Linked DNA regions of Homo sapiens. The protein of the gene in region 1 interacts with the protein of each later gene in a biochemical or structural test. Each region holds a gene or a part of one and is shown on either strand. Other genes may lie near its edges.

Region 1 (8,806 bases):
CCCCCTGACTGGCTTGTGGGGTCTTTCTCTCACCATGCATGGCCTGTGGCTCTGTCAGCAAACGTTTTCTGCAAAAGGCCACCTAGTAAGTGTTTTAGGCATTGTGTGCCATTATTGTCTCTGTTGTGATGAATCACCTTTGCCATTGTAGCACAAAAGCAGATGTCAATACATTGGCAAATGGCTGTGACTATGTTTCAATAAAACTTTATTTACAAAAATAGGTGCTGGCTCACGTGCTGTAGTTTGCTGACCCCTTGCATCAGTGAAGATTTTTTCAATATGGAAATTTCAGAATTTCCACCAAATCTACAAAATTCAGATCCGTCATTCCAATCTTTATTTTATCTTGCTGATTAAATGGCACTTTAAAAACCACATGCTAAAAGGAAAAAAGAAGTAGCAAACAAACAAACAAAAAACCACATGCAAATCCTGTTAGTGAGGTCATTTTTATATAGCCCCTAAGCAATAGTCAGTGTGTGTGGGCCTTCTGGTAAGTATGGAAGGTGGGAGAAGTAAAATGGGAGCTGCACTCTGCTGTTGGAGAACTGGACCAGTCAACCATGTGTGTGGGTGGACTTCACATGAGATGCACTTCACATAAGTATTTCTCAGCACTGTACGAGATGTCCTTATGAGACTACTTTTCTCAGTTCTTTATTAGGATCATATTTCTGGGTTTCATATTCGCATGCATCCTCACAGAAAGCCACGGTACCATTGTGTATGTGTATCGTATATTGCCTGTATCACTTAGCTTTCTGGAATCTAAAGGTTCCTTGGGTGTGCAACTTTGGTGCCCTACTCCACGTAAAAATCTTCTGTAGCTCAACTGAGCAAAACACACTCGCACATTCATCTACTTATTCATCATGCTTATTACCGTTCTCAAATTCAGAGGCTTGGTTCTTGTTTTTGACAACGTCCCGCTGGTTTGCCGTCCGTCTGGATGCCATCTGTGCCATGTTTGTCATCATCGTTGCCTTTGGGTCCCTGATTCTGGCAAAAAGTAAGTACAGATGTGAATAACTATGTATGGTATGATTACAATTTATAGCTGTGTTTACATTTATTAAACTCTTGCCACCTTGTCTACTACTACATACTGTTTGGTCCTAATGAAGTGTATTAAATCATTTACGATGTGTCAGGTTGGGTAGGATTCAGCAGTGTGACTCATTTAAGGAGTCATTTGGGTCTTGATGGGTTTATCTTTCTTTGAATGGGTTGAGATATGCGCAGTTGAGATTCTGAACATTCCTGTTAGTGTCTGGTAGTTGTGAAGAGAAAACCAATTTATTCTGAAGCATTTTGTCCAACTTAGGGTGTTAGCCTTCCAACTACTTGAATCTATTGTTTGTAGTTGCCTGGTGCATGAGGTTGAGAAAAATTCTCAGCAGGAGAGTATTATCTTCAATGCCACATGGGTACCAGACAAGCAGGGCATGAGTTCACCACCCCAGTAACAACAGTGCATTACAATACTTAATAATGGAACAAGGAGAGTAGTATTTTAGTCTCAAAAGCATTGGCACTTACAACCTATTGCTTTGTTTTTAGTGGTTTCCAGCTGTGGTTGCATTGCACGTAGAAAGTGGAATAATGTAATGAGCTTTGAAACCATAATAATGAATGTCTGAATAATGACATTATTTCTTGCGTTTGTAATACTGTTAATTAAATCTATGTCGATCCTGTTGGAATTCATAAAATCATCTAAAAATTTTTCTAAATATACAGTGTTGTTTTCCCCATTGTATCTTGATCTCAAGCAACAAATGGTAAAAGTATAGCTATTAATGTCATTAAATGTGAATTGTTTCAACATTATGAAGGGTTCCTCTTGGTAAGTGGCAGAAGGAGCCAGGCTTAGGTTTGAAGTGAGACTGACTTTATTCCCTTCTTCCTCCTTACGTAGCTCTGGATGCCGGGCAGGTTGGTTTGGCACTGTCCTATGCCCTCACGCTCATGGGGATGTTTCAGTGGTGTGTTCGACAAAGTGCTGAAGTTGAGAATATGGTAATATTTACCTTCACGTTCTTTGCCTTTTCAATCTCCTTGCCATTAAATGGTATAAAAGCCATTCTTATGTGAAATATTAAAACTGTTATTTTTACATCTTTGGTAACAGATTTTTTTTAAGATCCTTCCTCCATCTGTTTAAAGTTAATGTAAAATAAAATATATACATCTTTTTCTGAGTCTTATGGTTGCTCTGTCAGCAGGTTTTATATTCATCACAAGCTTTTTCAGATGTAATAAATGTCTCTGTAGGAGGGAGGTTCTGAAATTCTAGAGAGGATATAAGCTAATTTCTTAGAAGCCTGTTTAATTTTGTTTCTTAACGGGTAATTCCTCATTCCTGTTAAAAGAAGACTTCAGTATTTTGAGGTTGTTTACATTTAATTAATAGGTCTCCTCCTCTCCCAGTTCTAGCGTTTACTCTCTTATGTGAAGAACAGAAGGGAGGAAGGCCTTAACTTTGCTGGTGTGCCTTCTTGGTACAGAAAGCCTCCTCTTGGAATGTGCTAGTCAAAGGGTATTAGTTTATGGTGGTATAGGAGGCTTTAATCAATGTTTTAAATATTTGCACCTTCCCCTAAAGAGAGAAAAGCAATAAACATAAAAATCTTTTCATTCTTCTCATAGAGCAAAAGTTGAGTAATTATTACAGTGAGGTTTCACGATCATCCAGTTTAACTGACCTATATCAGGTGATCCTTCTATAGCAAAAGATTCTTTTTTGGGGGGTAGGGGTGAGGGGACAGAGTTTTGCTCTTGTACCCCAGGCTGGAGTGCAATAGTGCGATCTTGGCTCACTGCAACCTCCGCCTCCCGGGTTCAAGCGATTTTCCTGCCTCAGCCTCCTGAGTAGCTGGGATTACAGGCATGCAGCACCACGCCCAGCTAATTTTTGTATTTTTAGTAGAAATGGGGTTTCACCATGTTGACCAGGCTGGTGTCAAACACCTGACCTTAGGTGATCCACCTGCCCCGGCCTCCCAAAGTGCTGGGATTATAGGCATGAGCCACCGCGCCCAGCCAGCAAAAGATTCTTGATTGGTGGCTCTAAGTATTCCTTTCCTTTACAAAATTTTCTTGCCTTTAATACAGGTGTGAGAAGTGGATAAATAAAATCTAAGCATTCATTTCTCTCATTCTTTTAACCTAATGTTGAAGGAAGTGGTTGTAAGTGAAGGTGTTACACAATGATGAACCAAATTTGTAAGTCATCAACATCCTCGTCTGTCTCCTGCTTCTCTCCTTAACCAACTATGTATGAAAGAAGAACATTTCATTGACAGTCTCTTAACATCCATAAATGACACCCTCCATTCCTAACCCCTCGGGATGTCATATTTCTTTCAGATGATCTCAGTAGAAAGGGTCATTGAATACACAGACCTTGAAAAAGAAGCACCTTGGGAATATCAGAAACGCCCACCACCAGCCTGGCCCCATGAAGGAGTGATAATCTTTGACAATGTGAACTTCATGTACAGTCCAGGTGGGCCTCTGGTACTGAAGCATCTGACAGCACTCATTAAATCACAAGAAAAGGTTTGTTTAAAGCATCTTGCCTCTTCTCAATTTCAGAAGATTTAGTGCTATGTCTGCTTGTTGTCTTCCTTGTGGATGTGTGAAGGGGATCAGTGATACGTAGGTTAACCTGTCTTGGAAACTAACCATGGAATGTGGATACCAACATTCTTCCTGCTGTGAACTGCTTTACTGTGGTTGGTGGGCCCCGGGCCTCAGGGCTGGAGCTTAACGTGACCCAGGATACTCTGTTTGATACCTAATTACTCATGGATTTTTCCAGGAAGTCAACTCTGGCTTTGTGTCACCAACACTCCTATGTCTAATTCTGTCGATTTTTACTTTGTTGCATTTCTCAAGTCCTTCTCTTCCCCTCCACTGCTGCAGCTTCTGTTCCAGCCTTTCTCCTCCTCCATCCTTTGGTCCTGTATTAGTCTGTTTTCACACTGCTGATAAAGGTATACCCAAGACTAGGCAATTTACAGAAGAAAGAGAGGTTTAATGGACTTAAAGTTCCACATGGATGGGGAGGCCTCAGACTCATGATGGCAGGCAAGGAGGAGCAAGTCACATCTTATATGGATGGCAGCAGGCAAAGAGAGTTTGTGCAGGGAAACTTCCCCTTATAAAACCATCAGATCTCATGATACTTATTCACTATCATGAGAACACCACAGGAAAGACCTGCCCCCATGATTCAATTACCTCCCACCGGGTCCCTCCCACAACATGTGGGAATTTAAGATGAGATTTGGGTGGGGACACAGCCAAACATTATCAGGCCCTTTCCTTAGTCTTTCTTGCCTTCCTTTAACCTGTGCTTTGCTTTCCCTCCCCATCCCTTTCACTGCAAACTCTTTCTTTCTGAAACAGTTTGATCACAGATCTGATCCTTACGTGGCCAGCTCCTTGCCTGGGTGAGCAGCTGCTGCAACCTTAATGAGCCCCAGGCCCACCCTGACAGGACCTGTCTGGCTCTCAGCCCCCAAGGGAAGACCCAGATCCCATGACCCCATCAGTGCTCAGAAATCAGACCCCCAAGCTGGAGGCAGTAAAGGCACCAGAGACTCACTCAAAGTCAGTGAAAGGAAAACAAGGAGGGACTTGGGAGGCTGTGTGGAGTTTTGTGAGCTGGTTTTGCAGGTATCTAAGTCTGCCAGCAATGTCCCTTTCACATGTGTCCTGGGGCCCTTGGCTAGGACTAGGACAGCCTCTTGAAGGAACTAAACCAGAACAAACAAGACAGTAGAATCTCTTCCCCTTCCCACCCCTCTCCTCACAACTCCCAATATGGACACACATCCCCTGCACTCAGGGTGCCCTCCTTCTCCCCAAGCACCTGTCTGCCTTGCTCTTAGTGTGCACCCTTTTCAGTCAGTTCAAGCATCTCTGCCTCTTTGAAACTATATTCTCCACATCATCTTATAGATTCTTTTTTCGAGACAGAGTCTTGCTCTGTCGCCCAGGCTGGAGTGCAATGTCACATTCCCGGCACACTGCAACCTCCACCTCCCAGGTTCAAGCGATTTTCCTGCTTCAACCTCCCCCGTAGCTGGGATTATAGGTGTGCACCACCATACCCAACTCATTTTTGAATTTTTAGTAGAGACCAGGTTTTGCCATGTTGGCCATGGCTGGTCTCGAACTCCTGAGCTAAAGTGATCCGCCCACCTTAACCTCCCAAATCATGCCTGGGATTACAGGCATGAGCCACCATGCCTGGCCAGATTCTTTAATGTAACATCTGTGGCCCACCCGTGTTCATAACAGCATTATTTGCAGTGAGCAGTAGGTGGAAGCAGCCCAAGTGTCCATTGACTGAGGAATGGAAAAACAAAATGTGATACGCACGCATAATGGAATATTATCCAGACTTAAAAAGAAGGTGATTCTGACACATGCTGACATGTGTGATTCTGACATGGATGAGCCCTGAGGACATTATGCTGAGTGAATTAGGCCAGACACCTAAGGACGGTGCTATAAGGTTCCACTTACATGTGGGTACCTGGAGTAGTTAGTCATGGAGACAGAAAGTAGGATGGTGGGCGGCAGGGGTAGGGGAATGGGCATTAGTGTTTAATGGGTACAGAGTTTCAGTTTTACAAGATAAATGGAGTTTTAGAGATGGATGATGGTGACGGTTGCCCAACAACATGAATGTATTTAATATAATTGAACTGAACATTTTCAAGTGATTACAATGATCAATTTTATGTTACTTTACCACAATTTGAAAAGTACATAAAGTACCTTTTGTGTATTTTACCACAATTTTTTTTTAAAGAAGATAGCACGATGGCATGATTTATAATTCTGGGTCAGCATCTCACAGTACCCTGAGCCTCTTAAAGTCAGGGAGCATTTTATATTCGTCTCTGTACCCCCAGAAAATGGCATGCTGCAGGGCACATGGTGGGTGCCTGTGAGAGTGAGGGATATGCACATACAAAGAAATCGGTAACAAAACACACACGACAGCTCCCGCAACAGCCCGTTCTCTGGGTGTCAGTGTTAGATACTTTCGGAACTGCTCTTTTCAGCTCTTCCCACCACAGACCCATTTAATGGGCTATAGTCACAATTGAATGAATGATACCCTTGTGCCATGAAAAATAAATATACAGCTTCATGCCCAGAAGATACCCAGGGAACCAGCAAAAGCTGATTCCTCATTATCTACCCAGCATCCTTGTGAGTGTGAAGAAGGTGGAGACCACTCTGCAGGCAGCATCAGCTGTAGCTCTTGCTGAAAGCAAGGTTTCTCAGATTCTGTTCCTGATGGGGCCAGGGGGATGTTTGCTTACTCTCAGACAATGTGTTATTAGGTCCTACCTGATCAACATCATTCTGTTAGTTTGGCCACGTTGTAAATTTCTCTTGTAGCCATAAAATATGAATTATCTACAAACCTCTGTTGTACACATTAGAAAACAACCTATATCCCCACATTGATATCGTTCCATCTTAAAACCCCCCCAAATCATAGGATTACCTGAGATCTGAAATGTGGGAGGGTAAATTGAATTTGAAGACTGAATTATAGCTACAACCACTTGGCTTTTGAGACAGAGTCTCGCTGTGTCATCTAGGCTGGAGTGCAGTGGCGCAATCTTGGCTCATTCTGCCTCTCAGGTTCAAGCGATTCTCCTGCCTCAGCCTCCCGAGTAGCTGCAATTACAGGCACCCGCTGCCATGCCTGGCTAATTTTTGTATATTTAGTGGATCCGGGGTTTCACCATGTTGGTCAGGCTGGTCTTGAACCCCGACCTCAAGCAATCCACCTGCCTCGACCTCCCAAAGTGCTGGGATTACAGGCATGAGCCACTGCGCTGAGCCCCACTTGGCTTTTGATTTGTGTCCTGGTTCACTCACAGTGTCACCTTTAGCTTCATTTGTGTATTCAGGCAACATCGTGGTGAGTTGGTTCCACTTTTTGTGTGTATATTCAGGGTTCGTCTCCTCCACACCTGCCTGCAGCCCCAGGATCTCAGGCAGTCCCTTTGCTGTTGGAGCTGATGGAGAGGGGCATTGTTTCCAGTGGAGATGTAGGAATGTGTCCACACAGCAGAAACAGGGCTTCATTCTCTTTCAATTGCTTCATCTGCTCAGATTTCCTGGACATTATAACAAATAGGAAAAAGTAATAGGCGCTAAGTAGGTTTCTAATTCACAGAAGAAATAGCAAGTAAAAAAGAATGAACCAAAATGAGGTATATACCACCCTAGCCTTCCTGGTTAGATTCCAAACACTGGCTGCATTTTTCATTTAGATGGTTTTGTGGTTGATTTAATCATTTTAGAGAGTACTGGGCCATTTTAAAGCATTTTTCAGCTCTAGAGGTAGATTGATTTTGGTTTGTTATTTTTTTTTCCTTGCTCAAAGCTATTACTTGGATAATACCTTTTTACAGATGTGTACTAGACCTTGCTATAGTGTGCAAAAATATTAGTTTCTTATATTCTCTCCTTTTTTACATTAATGTTTGCTGAGAAACCCCTCCTCTCACAGCCAGATTGTCCCACTTGCCCTGCCTGCTTGCTCATCTCAGGGGCTGGGATCAGCATCACCTGCCTCTGCTTGGAAACATGTTAGAAATGCAGACTGTCAGGCCCACCCCACCCTTTTGATTAAAATTGCACTGGGACAAGAACCACCCCCACTCCTGCCCCTGCATTAAAGCCGTTGCTCTCCGGTAAGCAATTTTGGATGACTAATAATCTGTGATTTCCAAGAAACTTCCTTTGACAACTTGAAGTGGAGCTCGTGGATTGCCCCAGCCCCTCTTGTGACTAAACATGAGACTCTGGATAGTCCTGGGCCAAGTGCCACCCTACAGGTTTTTTGTTTTTTTACTTTTATATTCTGCAAATTATGAATTTACATTACAATTTAATTCTGTGTGATTCCCCATTTATGCATTCATTTGCACCTTTCCGGTCATCTCTGTCTTCTATCACAGTTTTCATCCCACCATACAGCCTTCCATGAATAGCAGTCTCTGTCCTCATACCAGCTCAGCACAGCGATGTATTTGAGTTCCGTTCACTACTGATGGGATCAAAATGGGTCTCACTGCCCCACAGTACACTAGGTCTGTCTGGCCTGTTTCCCAGTTGCCCCATGTCCAACGTAGCTGCAGGCTTCTCTCCCAGCCTCTTCTGTGGGTGCCAGTTCTTCCTGTCAACAGCTGTAATCCACCCTAATACAGGTACTGTCTTGGCTCACAGTAGTCAGCTTCTTGTCCTAGCCACCTTCTTATACTCACGCATGTCCACAGCATGCATTAAATGTATGACAATAGGACCAGTATGGCAGGCCAGTGCCTTTAAAGACAACCACACTTCTCCCCGCTGTCTCCCTTCTAGCTACACCAAGGGAATACAGAGCCAGGCTATCCAAGTGATTGGGAGGCCATCGGCAGAATGGGCAAGAGGCAGGCAGACTTGGGTTTCCGTCCCATTCCATCACTTAGGGGCTCAGTCATTTCAACAGTTTAATCAATCTTACTAAGCCTCGATTTTTCTCTTTTGCAAAATGCAAGTGATAGGGCCTAGCCATTAGAGTTTTATAACTTAAACAAGATAAGAGGTGTAAAACACCTAGCTTATTGTATACCTGAACAATATGGCAATAGATTTCCCATAAATGTTTCAAGCCTGAGTTAAATGCTTAACTCTCTGGGGGATTTCTGGTTTTTTTTGCAGGACACCACAGGTGATACAAATAATACAAAGCTAATTCCAATATAGGCCCTGCCCA
Region 2 (8,806 bases), on another chromosome or scaffold:
AAAAATTAGCCAGGTGTGGTGGCGCTTGCCTGTAATCCCAGCTACTCGGGAGGCTGAGGCAGGAGAATCGCTTGAACCCAGGAGGCGGAGGTTGCAGTGAGCCGAGATCACGCCACTGCACTCTAGACTGGGTGACAGAGTGAGACTCTTTCTCAAAAAAAGAAAAAAGAAAAGAAAAGAAAAGGAAAAAAAACAAAGAGAAAGAAATCCTTCAACCCTGATGACTTTTTGTGGGTTTCTATTTCCCTCCTCCCGTTTACTCTTACTTAAACAGGGTCAAGGTTGAGGCAGGACAAGATCCACACAAGTACTTGAACCTGAGTCCCAATCACTTTGGAAAATTCTTTTACTAATTTATTTTATTAAAGTAACACAAGCACATAATACATAATTTAAAAGGTATAACTTGATACACAGTGAAAACAATTTCCTTCTCACCCCATCTTATAGCCACCCAGTTCCTCTCCCTAGAAGCAACCACTGTTTCTTATGTCTCCTTCCAGACATAGTTTATGTATTTTCATTTATTTTATTTTTTGAGACAGGGTCTCACTCTGTCACCCAGGCTAGAGTGCAGTGGTGTAATCACAACTCACTGCAGCCTTGACCTCCCGGGCTCAAGCAATCCTTCTGCCTCAGCTTCCCGAGTAGCTAGGATTACAGGTGCACGCCACCATGCCCGGCTAATTTTTTTATTTTTTGTAGAGACGAGGTTTTACTATGTTGCCTAGGCTGGTCTCGAACCCCTGACCTCAGGTGATCCTCCCACCTCAGCCTCCCAAAGTGCTGGGATTACAGGTGTGAGCCACTGAACCTGGCCAGTTTATGGATTTTTAAGCAAATATGAATATAATCATTCTTTCACTGTTTATGATGAAGCTAGTATACCCTTCATCACATTATTATTATTTTTTGCTTAACAATAAATCTTCAAGATCACCCTCAGAACCTCCTTTTCCTACCTACATGGTGTATCCCGGGTATCATAAGTCAATTTTTTAAATATAAGCCTATCTTAGACAATTTTGTTATAACAGCAATGCCATATGACTTGGTGTCATGTGAGTTTTTTGAAGTTCTAGTTGCTAGAGAAGGCAGTTTCTCTTTCTCAGTACTTCCCTCATTTGAGGTCACCTGATAGCGAATACTACTTCAAACCTCACCATGTTTTTTGTTTGTTTGTTTGTTTGTTTGTTTTTCTGAGACAGGGTCTTCCTCTGTTGCCCAGGTTGGAGTGTAGTGGTGTGATCATGGCTCACTGCTGCCTCCAACTCCTGAGCTCAAGCAATCCCCCTGCCTCAGCCTCCTGAGTAGCTGGGACCACAGGCTTGCACCACCACACTCAGCTAATTTTAAAATTTCTTACAGAGGCAGGAGTTTCACCATGTTGCCCAGGCTGGTCTCAAACTCCTGGGCTTAAGCGATCTCCCCACCTTGGCCTCCCAAAGTGCTGGGATTACAGGTGTTAGCCACTGCACCTGGCCCAAACCTCACCATCTTATCAAAGTTTCTACTTAGAAATCAGAGTCCCTTAGAAATGATGTAAGCCTCTACTCCAGACTTCCTTCTCTCTCATCTTCTAGTCCTTTTCTAGGCCTTGGGCAGGCCAGTGGACACTGCTCAGGCATACCATCTATTCCCATCTAGGGACCCTTCTCCTTCCCCACACAGTGAATGGCACACTCCTCACAGTTCTGCCTATTGGGAAGATCTTCCCTCCCTACTGTCTTTGAGGGTCACCTCTGGGTGTGACTGGAATGCAGCTATCCCCTATTTTCAGCAGACCCTTCCATAAGCCCACTTCAGGCCTATTCCTCCTCCTCGTCCTCCTCCTCCTCCTCCAGGTGGCTATATCATTTTTGATTTAATATTTTATCTGGGGTGGGCAGGGAGCATTTTCAGAGGTTTCCATAGTTTTTCCCCATTGTGATTGCTCTTACCCAGATCAGTAAGATGAGGAAAGAACAGCAAAGCAAACTGAGAAGGAGCATTTTAAGGAGAAGAGAGTGATCACCTGTGAGACTGATCCACAGGTGATCTACCATGGAGTGGTGTAGCAGTAGCCATTCATTGCCATTGATGTAGGGTATCCACTTGGATATGCTTCAGTTTATCCATTCTACTGTTGATGGACTTTTGGGCTATTTTCAGGTTTGGGCTTTTAAGAGTAGTGTTGTTCTGGAAAGGGCACACCACTACTTTCCTGGAATTCCTGCCAAAAATGCAAAATCCCAGTCTAATCTTGAAAAAACATCAGATGATAACCCCAAACTGAGAGACATCTACAAAATAACAGGTGTGTACTCTTCAAGAATGTCAAGGTCATGAAAGAAGAAAAAGAAAGGCTGAGGAAATTTTCCAAATTAAGGAAGAGTAAGGAAATGTGAAATGCATGATTGGATTCTGGTCTTAGATTGGATTCTGGGACCAAAAAGTCCTAGGTTGGATTCTGGACTGGGGAAGAAATATATAGCTATAAAGGACATTCTTGAAAGGGTTGGCAGATGACAATATTGTGTCAATGTTAAATTTTCAGTTTTGAAAATGCTCGTTCCTAACATATAGAGACATCTATGGGTAAAGGAGAATGAAGTCTTCAGATTACTCTCAAATGGTTCAAAAATTAAATTTTATAATATTTTTTAAAGAGTACTGGCTGCTCTTGGAATGGCGCCAAAAAGATGAAAGAATTTTATAGTGACACCCATATAGCCACACCTCCTAGATTCTACAGTTAACATGTTGCTGTGTTTGCTTTATCACATTTCTATCCAAAAACTGCCCATCTATCCACCTTCTTTTTCCTGGTATTTCAAAATAAGTTTCAGATATCAGAGCACTTTACCCCTGAAAGCTTCAGCATGCATATCATTGGCTCAAGTTCAGGATTTGTTTATGGTTCTTTTCATCCTGTTATTAAATTGTAAGAGTTCTTTATATGTTCTGGATACAAATCCTTTGTCAGATGTAAATATTGCAAATGTTTATTCTCAGGCTGTGTCATACCTGTCTAGTTTCTTATGTAAGATGTTTGAATTTGATGAAGTCAGTTGTTTGCTTGTATGATGATTGCTCCGTGTCTCGTCTACTAAATCTATGCTTATCTCAGTGGAGTTTTTTGATGAATAGACTTCTTACTTTTAAAGTGTTTGTCTTTTTAGTTTTCATTTTATACTCGGGACCTTTTATGACATTTATCGTGCAGACCATTTTTCCCCGCTGCACTGCAGTGTCACCTGACTATAAATGTGTGGCTCTGTTTTTGCACTCTCTGTTCCATTACATGGGTCGTTTGTCTTTCTTCTTACCACAGTGCCTTAAATTACTTTAGATTTATAATAAAGAGGCCTTGCTGCCTGGTAGAGTAACTCATTTAGCTTTGCTGTCTTTGAGATCAGGGGAAGAAGTCACAGTGGCAATGTATTATTGTTATCACCGCGGTTCGGGGCCCAGTCCTAAGTGCCTAATTCTACAGGTAGAAGTTCTTTGTAGCCTAAGGGGTGATTCATGAGAAACTGATGCTAACCTGAATTACCTTTATTGCTGTGTGACCGAGAGCATCAGGTTGTTCAAGGAAATACAAAGGAGAAGAGAACATGCCAGAAACCCTTGGAGCCTGAGGTGCCGCAGGATTCAGAATCTTTCTAATTTTGTTATATATTATGTAATACCCCAAGCAGGATCCAGGAGAGCACCATGTAAATCAAGGCACATTAATATTTCTGCAGCAACCTAGATAAACATGTCTATTTTATTTATTTTTAGAGACAGGGTCTCACTCTGTTGCCCTGGGACTGTAGCTGGGACTACAGGTGCACACCACCACACTTGGCTGACATGTCTATTAAGTTGGAGAAATAAAGCTTACAAACAGCTTCATGTCAATTCAAATAAGAATGAGGCCAAACTTATGAAATAAGTTTTCAGAGCCTCTTGAATGTTAGAATTGCAGATTGTGGACTGGCTGTGGGCCTTGCTCCTGATTTCATACGTTGCTTTGTTGTTTTGGCTTGGCAGGCTGTATCGCATCCATTGAATACTGTGACCGAGGACATGTACACCAACGGGTCTCCTGCCCCAGGTAGCCCTGCCCAGGTCAAGGGACAGGAGGTGCGGAAAGTGCGACTCATACAGTTTGAGAAGGTCACAGAAGAGCCCATGGTAATCCCCCGTCATATTGTCGCCCACCAGTTACTCTCTGCCCCATGAGTCACTGGGCCAGAAGAGTCAATGCAAGAGGCTGCTCATGGAGTTAGGGAATTGGCCAACCCCAAAATTGTCTTTTCATTCTTATCTCAAATTCCTCCTCAAAGCAGGCTTCATGCCTGTTCTAGTTGAGGACTATCCTGGGTATAAATGGAAAATATTTTCCTGAGAAATTACCGTAAGTTCTTTCTAAAATAACCTCAGAAAGAGCTTAAAATAAAGCTTATTGTGCCGTCGCCTTTATTTCAGGGAATCACGCTGAAGCTGAATGAAAAACAGTCCTGTACGGTGGCCAGAATTCTTCATGGTGGCATGATCCATAGACAAGGTACTCTGTGGGAGCTCTGGGTGGGGTTTGATTCAGGGATTAATAATTTACTCCCTGTTCAGTGGTGTGGGGCATGAAGCTTATAATCCTCCAAACTGGTAGCATTTTTGTGAGTGTGCCAAGAGACTTTTTGTGGCTTAATAACTGGCTCTGTAGAATCAGTACATGATAAGATCTCTATGTGAATTGCCCAGTGCCACCATCTCCCTATCTGAGCCTTCTTTCACACCTATTTATACCAATATTTTTCTAGTAAGTTAATATTTGAGCAATTGCCACATGCCACCCATTGCATTAGACTTGGAAAGGACAGCAGTACCACTTGGTAGCATTTTGGGGTTTGAGCTAAACAACAAAGAAACATGGAGCTTGCTGGTGAAAGAGGAGTACTGAGTTCTTTGCCTTGCTTTGTTATTCTTTTTAGTGTATACATCTGTGTCATAGTCTGGAGTCAGTAGCCACTCTAGTTCCAGGAATTTGAGGACAAGGTGTTTTATTGTGCTGTTGGACTACTGAGGCCAAGGAGGATGAGACCATCTTAAACTGTCAAGTCAAATGTTTTCAATCCTGAGTATTTGACACAATCTGTTTCATAACATGCTGTAAATCCTGGTTTCTCTTCTATGGTATCTTGAGTTACATTGACAGCTCCTGTTTGAACTTTTGTTCTTTTGTGGATTGATTTTTCATTTCATGGCAGGCTCCCTTCACGTGGGGGATGAGATCCTAGAAATCAATGGCACAAATGTGACAAATCATTCAGTGGATCAGCTGCAGAAGGCGATGGTGGGTATTTTCTATGCTAGATGAAGACCTTCCATTGTCTCCATAAGTGTTGATCCACATTGGTATCAGTGACCTCATCTCTCTGTCAAAGTATTTGTACCTTCTTGAGGGGGCTCTTTTCACTGCTAGTCTTTAATCTGTGTAAGAAATGATAATTTTCTGCCTTTATTTAGTAAAATTCTAAAGCAGGGCAAATAACCCAGAGCATCAATCTGGTGTTCCATGAAGTAATGCCAAATGAAGTAAAGCAAGCTATAACGTATATAGTAGAATCCCATTTTTGTTAAAAACAAACAATACATATGTATGCATAATGTATGTAAATATTTGTAATGCTTTTGTTGGTATGGGGAAAGGCGTGGATATATATGCGCCATAGTTCATTTTTAGGAACTTCTTCAGGACTTTTTGGGGTAAAGAATGGGGAAGAAAAGTCTTTTTTTTTTTTTTTTGAGATGGAGTTTCGCTCTGTCACCCAGGCTGGAGTACAATGGCGTGATCTCGGCTCACTGCAACCTCCGCCTCCTGGGTTCAAGCGATTCTCCTGCCTCAACCTCCCAAGTAGCTGGGATTACAGGTACCCACCATCACGCTGGCTAATTTTTGTATTTTTAGTAGAGACAGGGTTTCACCATGTTGGCCAGGCTAGTCTTGAACTCCTGACCTCAGACGATGCGCCCACCTCAGCCTCCCAAAGAGCTGGGATTACAACAGGCGTGAGCCACCGTGCCCAGCTCGGAAAAGTCTTTAGTTAGCTTTTCTTTGTTACTCTTTGCATGTCTTCATATTGTTATGCTGATTTATGGGGCACATGACACTTTTGTATTAAAGGAGGAATTGTCCTACAAAATCTCAAAATGTAAAGATGGTTGTTGGGGAAAAAAACCTGGGACTTTGAATGAATGATCACATCATTCAACTTAGTTTTCTGTACAATTTTATGTCCATTTTTTTTAATAGAAAGAAACCAAAGGAATGATCTCATTAAAAGTAATTCCCAACCAGCAAAGCCGTCTTCCTGCACTACAGGTGGGTGGCACCATTTTCTCTGTTGTCATGATGGCAGGAGTCGGGCCATGTTGTCTTATATTCTTTGAAATTTGATTATAAGGGATGTGAGTCTAACTTTAAGTTCTAAGTATCTCGCAAGTGTGTAGCTGCTTGGCTCAGGGTCCCATTATTCCCTGCCTGGTATAAAATACAGGAGCTCATTCCCCTTTCCTCAATGGAGAACATAGTGACGACAGGAGTAGAGAATGAATGAGCCTTTGCTGCTAGTGGTCAGGTAGGAAGGGAGAGGGTAATTTTATTCTACAGATGGTAAGGAATCAATACAGCTCCAAGAGGAAAATGGGTAAAGGGAATGAAGAGATCATTCACAGGAGGAAAACTACAAATGAGCATTGAACATATGAAAAAATATTTTATCTTACCGATCATCAAAGAAATGCAAATTAAAATATGCATGAGACACCAGTTTTCACCAAGCAAATTGGCAAATACTTTTTAAAATAGCAATAATAAAGCCCCGTGATTGATAGTGGCAAAGTAAAGAAAGAAACAAAAGATAGATAGAATCTGTTGAGCACTTATTCACAATTTATTGAGGGTCTACCATGTACAAAGTACTGTGCTAGAACATGGAGGTGATATAAAGAGAAATGGTTCCCAGTTCACACATAGCTCATCAGCCAGTAGAGGAATAGATTGGACAGGGCCATGGCAAGTCAATGTGGAAGAAGGAGATATTTAAAAGAATAAATCTGAAGTTTCTATTGCAGGTTACTTGTAGTGTGACGGTATAATTTTCTTAAGTAAACTTTTAAATTGCAGTTTTGGCATATATGGGCATATATTCAACAAAGGGCACAAATCACAAGTATAAAACTGGATGAATTTTCACAAACTGAGTACACCCATGCCTAAGACCGCCGCCCCCTCACCATGCGTGTTTCCTCAAGGCCCACCATAACCCTGACTTCTAACAGCAGGGATGAGTTTTGCCCCCTTTTGAAATGTATTAACGTTGAATTATACAGTATGAATTCTTTGGTGTCTTATTTTATTCGCTCAGTATTATGTTTATGGGAATCATCTATATTGCTTCATTCTCATTCATTCATTGTATGAACATGCTACAATTTAATCTATTCTGTCAGCTTTTTTGGTCTTACATTGAATGGCTGCCATTCACCAAACAGGATCTAATTCAGCAATATGAGAAGATTTACTGCCTGAAGGGCAATAAATTCACCACGTTAACAGAAAAATGGAGAAAAATCATATGATTTTTGTGCATGTGTTTTGTGGATACATCTATGCCTTTCTTTTGAGAGTAGAATTGCCAGGTTGTAGGATATATGTGTCTTCATCTTTAGGTGATATTGCCAAATAGTATTCCAAAGTTGGTGAACCATGTTACATCCCCAACTGCACAGTATGACAGTTCTGGTTGTTCTGTATTCTCACCAATACTTAGCATTGTCTGATTTGTTGGGTTTTTTTTCACCCTTTGGCCATCCTGATGGTGGTATCACATTGTGATTCTAAAAATTCTCTAATGACTAATGAGGGTAAACTCCTTTTTATATGTTTTTTTCCACTTGGATATCCTCTTTTGTAAGATACCAATTCAAGGCTTTTCTTACTGATTTGTAGCAGTTCCTCATATATTCTGGATAAGAGTCCTTTGTCATATGCATCCCAAGTATGTTCTCTTCTTCTGTGGCTTATTTTCTTCATGGTTCCTGTTAATGACTAGAAACTCTTAATTTTAATGAAATCCAATCTACCACTTTTTTCTGATTAGCACTTTTTATGTCTTGTTTTAAAAGTTTTTACTTACCACAAGGTCAACAAGATATTCTCCTGTGTTTTCTTCTAAATGCTTACTTGTTTGATTTTTCACATTTGGATCCACAACCCATCTGGGATTGATTGTTATATACATTGTAAGGTAAGAGGTCAAGATTCCAGTTTTTCCATATGGATACCAATTGAACCAGTATCATTTACTGTACACTGTCACTTTTGTCATGGTAATATTTACAGGTCTATTTTGGAACTTTTTATTCTTTTCTTTTGGACTGTTTGTTTATCCCTGTGTCAAACCTACATATCAGTTTGGATAAAAGAGGCATCTTCACAGTATCCCAGTGGAAGTGATGATAGCAGACATCTTTGTTTATTTTTCCATCTTAAAGGGAAAGCTGGCCAGGTGTGGTGGCATGCGCCTGTAATCCTAGCACTTTGGGAGGCCGAGGCGGGTGGATTGCTTGAGCCCAGGAGTTCGAGACCAACCTGGGTAACATAGCAAGACCCATGTCCTTTGAAAAAGGCAGGGAAAGCTTTTAATCTTTCACTGAGAAGTATGACGTTGGATGTAGGGTTTCTGTAGGTATTCTTTCTCACAGTAAAGAACCTCCCTTCTATTCCAAGTTTGCTAAGAATTTTAATCTTGAATGGGTTTTGAATGTTATCACAGGC

Evidence for each region.
Region 2: the proteins of ABCC4 (region 1) and MPP1 form a complex in vitro, tested with the Homo sapiens proteins (2 studies listed by BioGRID and IntAct, with this or other methods).

Annotation. Positions count from the first base shown.
Region 1 is NC_000013.11:95,066,420-95,075,225, reverse strand, and holds part of ABCC4 (ATP-binding cassette sub-family C member 4), read left to right. Parts: intron 1-901; coding exon 902-1,012; intron 1,013-1,921; coding exon 1,922-2,022; intron 2,023-3,372; coding exon 3,373-3,564; intron 3,565-8,806. UniProt on the Homo sapiens protein: ATP-dependent transporter of the ATP-binding cassette (ABC) family that actively extrudes physiological compounds and xenobiotics from cells.
Region 2 is NC_000023.11:154,787,497-154,796,302, reverse strand, and holds part of MPP1 (55 kDa erythrocyte membrane protein), read left to right. Parts: intron 1-4,017; coding exon 4,018-4,161; intron 4,162-4,455; coding exon 4,456-4,534; intron 4,535-5,234; coding exon 5,235-5,320; intron 5,321-6,280; coding exon 6,281-6,349; intron 6,350-8,806. UniProt on the Homo sapiens protein: Essential regulator of neutrophil polarity. Regulates neutrophil polarization by regulating AKT1 phosphorylation through a mechanism that is independent of PIK3CG activity.